2 linked regions of the Homo sapiens genome follow. The protein of the gene in region 1 interacts with the protein of each later gene in a pairwise test. Each region holds a gene or a part of one and is shown in the gene's direction. Other genes may lie near its edges. The genes, in order: DCPS and CDC27.

Region 1 (3,819 bases):
GCAGAAGGTCTAAGGCAGAGAACACAGATTCTTAGAACTCTGGCAGGAAAGAATGTTCATGGCATGTAAAGACCATGGCATAGTTGGATATCAGCCAGTCATATAGAAAAGCCCATCCTGAATTTTCAATTTGAGGCCCCAGGAAATGTGGTTGGGTGAGTCATGGTCCTCAAATTATCTTCACAAGGAATCTGGTAGCTCAGACTGCAGGGCAGGGCACTGCTGGGTTCTCCCCGTGCCTGGCCCCTCAGAGCCTTGATGTCTGGGGCCTTCCAGGCGCATGGATGGAATTACCAGGCAAGGCCAGGGTTTAGGTGAGCAGGGTGGGTTTTCTCAGCAAGAGGAAGAGTTCATTTGCTCTCTGGCACAAGATCTTGACTTTGATTCTTTGTACTGTTGTGACCTCCAGGTTTTCAGCCAGGTTGTGCTCAGGAAGGACAGCAGGAAGGTATCCTGTGCGATAGGGGAAGAGAGAAACAAGCTAACTGCCCTGGTGTTGTGTGTGCTGCTGAGCTGGCCCTTGGCTCCCTTCTCAGCCTTCAGACCCCACTCCACCCCTTCATGGGCCTTGACTCCAAACAAATCAAGTTGCTTCCTCTCCCCTTCCGTATACATTCTATGCCCTATACATTCTTGCCTCCGAGTCTTTGCTCTGTTTCCTCTACCTGAATACCCTTTCTCCAAATTCTACCTTTTTTCTAGACCTGATCCTCTGCCTTCTCTTCCAGGAGGCCTTCCTGGGTTCATCCAGGTAGCTAGAGTCTTTCCTTCCTCCTGCACTGGGATTATTTTGTGTCTTACAGTAGAGCTACTTGCATACATGCGATAAGACTGTAAACTCTCGGAGGGAGAGAGTTGCCCTTGCTCTTTCTTGAACCTCCTGGCTCCCTGCCCCGACAGCTCTGGGGAGTGAGCATATAGAACTCTCTGCTGGGCGCGGTGGCTCACGCCTGTAATCCCAGCACTTTGGGAGGCCGAGGCAGGCGGATCATGAAGTCAGGAGTTTGAGACCAGCCTGGCCAATATGGTGAAACCCCATCTCTACTAAAAATATAAAGAGCATGGTGGCACGCACCTGTAGTCCCAGCTACTTGGGAGGCTGAGGCAGAAGAATCGCTTGAACCCAGGAGGCGGAGGTTGCAGTGAGCCAAGATTGCGCCACTGCACTCCAGCCTGGGCGACAGAGCGAGACTCTGTCAAAAAAAAAAAAAAAAAAAAGGACTCTCACATGGTATTCTCTAGCAAGAAGCGTACACAGTAGGCCTGCTCCTTAAGACCATCCCACACGCCCGGGGTATGCAGATGCCCTGCGGGGTTTCTCCTGGTGCTGTAGGCCTCAGGGGTGGGTGCTTCCTGGCTTACGTGAGAACTCCAGGGTTGGCAGCCTCCCCAGGTCTGTTCCCTGCTGAGCCTGGTCTCCCCTTGCTCTCTACGCAGCTCGATGACTTGTACTTGATCGCCATCTGCCATCGCCGGGGCATCAGATCCCTACGCGACCTTACTCCGGAGCACTTGCCGCTGCTCAGGAACATCCTCCACCAGGGGCAGGTGAGTGGCTTCACCAAACCACGTGGAAGCTCAGAGAAATTAGACTCAGATTCCAGTGTGTTCCTGGGCCCCTTTCCTCACCTTTCCCAGAGTCCATCTTGGAGAGACTTCTCTCTGGATGCCAGTCTTGGGGACCCCATTAGGCTCTTGAGGTTGAAGAGCAGGGCTCTTTGTCCCTGGTCCTGCCACCTTTCCTCACCCTCACACGCCTTCCTCGGCCTTTCTCCATCTGGGATGCACTTCCACCCCTCACCCCATAGACTCTGGTCCTTAAGTCCTGGCCCCTCCTACTCCAGGATCACCTGTCTCTCTCATGACAACCATGACAACCACATCATGCCAGAGTTTCTTGGGAGTATGGGCACATGACTTCGATATGTGTGTACACGTGTGTCTCCTTGTCTAGATTGAAGACAGGCTGAATTCTGTAGCACCTGGTGTTCTGGGATACTTTCTCTCTGGGATATTTGTTGAATTGAATGAAATTATCGGGGCTCTAAACAGAGCCCAGGAGCACGGGGAGATGGGGGAAGAGTGTCTAGAATCTTGGGTGTGGTCCTGGCCTGACATTTGGACCCTAACCAGCTGAGTGGCCTGGGGCAGGTCACTTCACCTCCCTAAACCACATTATCTAGATGGATCCCTTCTAAATCCACCATCCTAAGGGGCTGGGTCTGAGTCTTTTTTCCACTCTGAAATGTGATGCTCTGCCTAACACGCCAGAGCTAGCAGTCACAACGATGCCCAGCCAGGAGAGAGGTTTGCCCCTTTTTGACCAGTGATGCTTCGAGGTGTTAATGCAGACCTGGAGGCAAGGCTCTGCCCATACCCAGCTTCCCCTGCTGCTGGGCCCCGATCTATCTTCCCTCCTGCTCACCCACGGCACCACCCCTTGGCTGCCTTTATCTTTGTGGGGTGACTTGTTCAGATCCTGAAGCAGTCTCTGGATATTACAAATGGCAAAGAATGGTGTCTTTCTCTTGGGGAGATGCCAGGCCAACACTTTGACCTGCCCTAGCAGCTCAGACAGCTCCACCCTGGCAGACAGACCTCACTTACTCCAGGAAGCCCCTCGGGTGCCTTGGCCCTGGTCTCGCCCCGCTGCAGGGATTCCTGGGGTGAGCTCCAAATGCAGAACACAGTTCTGGGGTATATACTGAGCCCACTGAGGCCCTAGTACTTTTCTCTTCACCTCTGACCACCTCAGGGATTTGCCCACAATGGAGATGAGAGTCTCCGCTTAATTCTATGCCTCACAGCCTCCTGAAGGTGGAGGTTGGTAGAAAAAGACCCACCCCTGAGCAAGGTGGAGGTGGGCAAAGGGAGCCAGGGCCAAAGTCAATGCTTTCCTCTTCTGCAAGGAGCCCGCTGAGACTTCGCCAGGTCTGTGTGGGAGCAGCCCCTCCCATACCCCTTCCACAGTCCCTGCTCTTTCACCAAGTTCTCAGCATAGCCCCATCCCCAACTTCATTGTTTCCAAGCTCCACCCTGTGCTATGCTAAAAGAGAGAATGAGGCTTCCTCCCATCCACTTCATGACTGATGAAATGCTTCTAAATCATGAAAGTCCCCATAGTCTTGGGAATCTGGGGCCTGTCTGTAGACACTGGGCCTTCCAAGATTCCCAGCAGCAACTGTTTGAGGAAGCCAGTGTTTTTTCCACGTTGGGGTGGGGAATGCTGATTGAGGCCGCTCCCCACTTCTTTTGGGAGAGTCTCAGCTTTGCTGCTGTCACCTGCACTTGTGGATTTCCTAGACTAGAAGACAGAGGAAGCTGAAGCAGACAGCAGGTAGAGAGCTGTTTGGAGGGTTTTTGTGAGCTGTCCCAGGCCAATCCAGGATTCAGATGGGAGGAGGGTCTAGGTGGGGACATGGCGCCGGGCCTCAGGCAGCACGGTGACTCCTGACCTGCCTGCCCCTGTCTCATCAGGAGGCCATCCTGCAGCGCTACCGGATGAAGGGAGACCATCTGCGAGTATACCTGCACTACCTGCCCTCCTACTACCACCTGCATGTGCACTTCACCGCCCTGGGCTTCGAGGCCCCCGGCTCAGGCGTGGAGCGGGCCCACCTGCTGGCTGAGGTGATCGAGAACTTGGAGTGTGACCCTAGGCACTACCAGCAGCGCACGCTCACCTTCGCCCTCAGGGCTGACGACCCCCTGCTCAAGCTCTTGCAGGAGGCTCAGCAAAGCTGAATTAACTCAGGCAGAAGAGCACAGATGTGTGGGATTGGGGGAGGAGTGGGGACAAGATTTTTTATCTCCAAGTGA
Region 2 (3,819 bases), on another chromosome or scaffold:
CTCCTATTGCACTCCAGCAGCTATTCACAGGTATGATCATAGCCTTGAACTCCTGGACTCAAGCAGTCTTCCCAGCTCAGCCTTCTGAGTCGCTGGGACTAAAGGCTCACACCACCGTGATAGGCTGGAGAGATTCTTAAATATATACCCCAGGAGATGAATCTAAGACTGTTGCAGCATTGTTATAATTGGAAAAACAAAACAAAACAAAAAAACACCCTAGAAATAACCCAAATGTCCACATGCTGTAAAATAGATAAAATACATTTTGGATTTTGATATGTTTATACAATGGAAATATTATTTATTCAGCAATGAAAACAAATGAACTCTAGCTACACACATCAAGAATGAATTTTCAAAACATTGGATTTCAAAAGCAAATCGTAGCAGAATGTATACAATATGATTGTATTTATTTAAAGTTCAAAAACAGGAAAAAGTAAATGTTATACTGCTTAGAGATGATATGTACAAATGTATAAAATTGTGAAGAAAACCAAGAGAAAGGTCAAGAAAATTCAGTGTGGTGGTTTCCTCTTTGGGGCAGGGAGAGGTTTTGGTATCAACAAGGAACACACAGGGAGTTTCAGAGATATTTTATTTCTTAAGCTGGGTGGTGAGTACATGGGCCTAAATGTCTTTGGTTATTGTTACTTAAAATGTCCTTCTATCTCATATATACTTTAGGTTATATGTTTTGTAATTCTAAAAGAGAAAACATATATTCAAAAAATTAAAAGTTATTCCTATGATAACTTTACTCATTTGCATTCCAATATGCTTCCTGGAGTGGATGAGAATTGAGTGGCATTAAAGGTAATAGATAGGGAAGTTTTTGTGGGAGGATGACATACATTTTAATATCTCTGTCATGTATATCACATAAAGTGGTTGAGAACCACTGCTGCTAAAAGTCTGTAGTTTAGTAGGGTTGGCAGTCCTGTTAACAAATAACCATGTTATGAGTGCTCTACTAGAAGAGGTATCTTAAAAAAGAAATGGCTTGACATCAGCCAGGAAAGCTTTATGGGGCAGATGTTATTTAAGCTGGATCTTTAGGGACGAGCAGTTTATAAGGGGAGACTGGTGAGGGGAGCCCACATTGCCCAATGGAGGAAAAGGGTGTACAAAGGCACAGAAGCCTAAAAGTCCATAGAGAGTTGAGTGAGGAAATTCAGATATGTTAGGAGCCATACTGTGAAGAGCCTTGCCCGGCACACTCTGGAGTTTGCTCTGTGGGCATTGGGGTTTTATCACTTAAATTAGGGATATTAATTTCAGTATTTGATGTAAGGCTGTGTGCTAGTAGTTACCTTGAAAGTCTGTATGTATGTATATTTATGTTCTTTTTCCTCCATTTGCAGGCTGCTATATGGCAAGCACTAAACCACTATGCTTACCGAGATGCGGTTTTCCTCGCAGAACGCCTTTATGCAGAAGGTTTGAAATCTATTCATTGCTGTAGAATGATAAATGAATAACATATATGAAATTCCATAACTTTTTATCACTGTAACAAGATTCTAGCTATCATCATCTTGTTGTTTTTCTGATTGACACTAGTTCATAAAATCTTTACTTTTTTTCTGTGTAGTTCCCTTACATACTACTTTTAATAACTATGTAGAATTGATTCAGGTTTATATGCTATGATTTACTTAATCATTTTTCAATCTTTAGGTTTTTTTTTCCCCCAGGGTTTTTGTTGTTTTGGGTTTTTTTTTTTTTTTTTTTTTTTTTTTTTTTTGAAACAGGGTCTCACTCTGTCACCCATGTTGGAGTACAGTGGGACCATCTCAGCTCACTGCAACCTCTACCTCCCAGGCTCAAGCGATCCTCCCACATCAGCCTCCCAAGTAGCTGGGACCGCAGGCACGGACCACCACGCCTGGCTAATTTTTTTTTTTTTTTTGGTAGAGATAGGGTTTTGCTATGTTGCCCAGGCTGGTCTCAAATTCCTGAGCTTAGGTGATCCACCTGCCTTGGCCTCCCAAAGTGCTGGGATTATACTCATGGGCCACCATGCCATGTATTTTTTTTTTTTTTTTTTTTTTTTAAGAAAAGAGTCTGTATTCTATGGTGAAGAACATGGATTTAGACTCTATAGCCTTGGAACAAATCCTAACCTGTCACTTAAATGTACAGTTTTATAACCTTGGACGAGTTACTTTAATATCTGAAAATTCAGATATTTCATCTATAAAATAATCATTGCCCCTTAGAATTAAAAATTCAATGAGATGGTTTATTTAAAGCCCTTAGCACAGCCATCTGGCTTGGTAATCAATGCTTAATAAACACCACTGATAATGTATGTTTTGTTTCTGTCATTATTATAATTCCCTTTCTAAGATGCTGATATAGATCATTGTGTACAGCTTTTTTTTTTTTTTGAGTCATTTCCTTGGGTTATGTACTTTTAAATGGAATTTACAAGTCAAACAGTATGGGTTTAGTAGCTGAGAGTTGTGAGAACAAGGCCTAAACCTCAGGGGCAGGAAATTTCACAAAAGGACAAAGAGCAATGCTTGGAAGTAGTTTTGAGAAGTTAAGTGGAAACCAGCCTTACCTTGACTCTGAGATAGTGGGATGTAAGGTGATTACTGTCCATGTGAGAGAGCTGTCTCCTCGGTGGAGAATGGGAATTCAGTGAGAAAAGTGAGGAAGATCTGGGCAGCAGGAGTTTAAGGTCCCAATGAAAAGATTAGAAAGGTGAGAAGGAATGGAAGGCTTAGAAAGAAGATTATACAATAGATTAATCTACTCCATTCACTTATGCAAAAGTGATGTTTATTGTGAATAATCTATTTAAAAATATTTTCATTGATACCTAGGCAGGCCCCATATTTTGCTGTATTTTTAAAAATTTTTGTTGAGTCAGAATCTCACTCTGTCGCCCAGGCTAGAGTACAGTGGCACAATCATAGCTCACTGCAGCCTTGAACTCCTGGACTGAAGTGATCCTCCTGCCTCAGCCTCCCAAAGAGCTGGAGTTACAGATGTGAGCCACTGTACTCGGCCACTGTCTTCTATTTCTAGTATTTCCTTTTTGTTTTTGTTTATTATTAAAGAATAGGCAGTTTCTAGTTTATTATAGTTAGGCTCTTAAAAATTGTAAATTCATGGTTTAGAATTCAATTAGATTTTCCCATAGAATTGGTGGCAAGATTCCCAGATTAGTCCACATAAAGCTGTTTAATCCACGTTATTTATGTACCTGATACAATGCTTGGCACTTGGAAAGTTGCTCAGTAAATGTTAGTTTCTTTCAATATAGAACCTCACCATTCGGTTTAACCATATTTATATGAGGAAAGATTTTAGAATTAAGTGTAGTAAGAGCAGATACTATCCTGGCTCAGTAATAATAACAATAATTCTATCACTTATTGATTTCTTACTGTATACTAGGTACTCTAAGTATTTAATATTAGTTACTAATTTAATCTTCAATAATCCTATCAAATAGACATTGCTATTGCCATTTTCTGGATGAAGAACTGAGACTAATGTCCACAGGCGGTAACTAGTAATCTGTCTGATTCCGCTTTCCCAAGAGTAGCAATTACCACTTCTCTGATTTGCAACCATAGTAGGCATCACTAATCCATTACAGTACTCATTCCCACTGAACCAACCTCAGAATTCTTGGCAACAGTTTTCTTGGTGGACAATATCAGTTGATATGCTAGATGTAACCTGTTTGCTCAGGGGCCTCCTATGTCACTAGTAGCAGTTTCTATATTTGGAGAAAGACATCCAACAAGGCATGAGGCTAAAGCAGTTGATCAGTAGGATCTTCTGTAAGTCAAATTC

What was found.
Region 2: the proteins of DCPS (region 1) and CDC27 interact in a two-hybrid assay, tested with the Homo sapiens proteins (one large-scale study listed by BioGRID and IntAct).

Annotation. Positions count from the first base shown.
Region 1 is NC_000011.10:126,341,870-126,345,688, forward strand, and holds part of DCPS (m7GpppX diphosphatase), read left to right. Parts: exon of another isoform or gene 1-453; intron 454-1,437; coding exon 1,438-1,548; intron 1,549-3,477; coding exon 3,478-3,744; 3' UTR 3,745-3,819. UniProt on the Homo sapiens protein: Decapping scavenger enzyme that catalyzes the cleavage of a residual cap structure following the degradation of mRNAs by the 3'->5' exosome-mediated mRNA decay pathway.
Region 2 is NC_000017.11:47,179,186-47,183,004, reverse strand, and holds part of CDC27 (cell division cycle protein 27 homolog), read left to right. Parts: intron 1-1,367; coding exon 1,368-1,443; intron 1,444-3,819. UniProt on the Homo sapiens protein: Component of the anaphase promoting complex/cyclosome (APC/C), a cell cycle-regulated E3 ubiquitin ligase that controls progression through mitosis and the G1 phase of the cell cycle.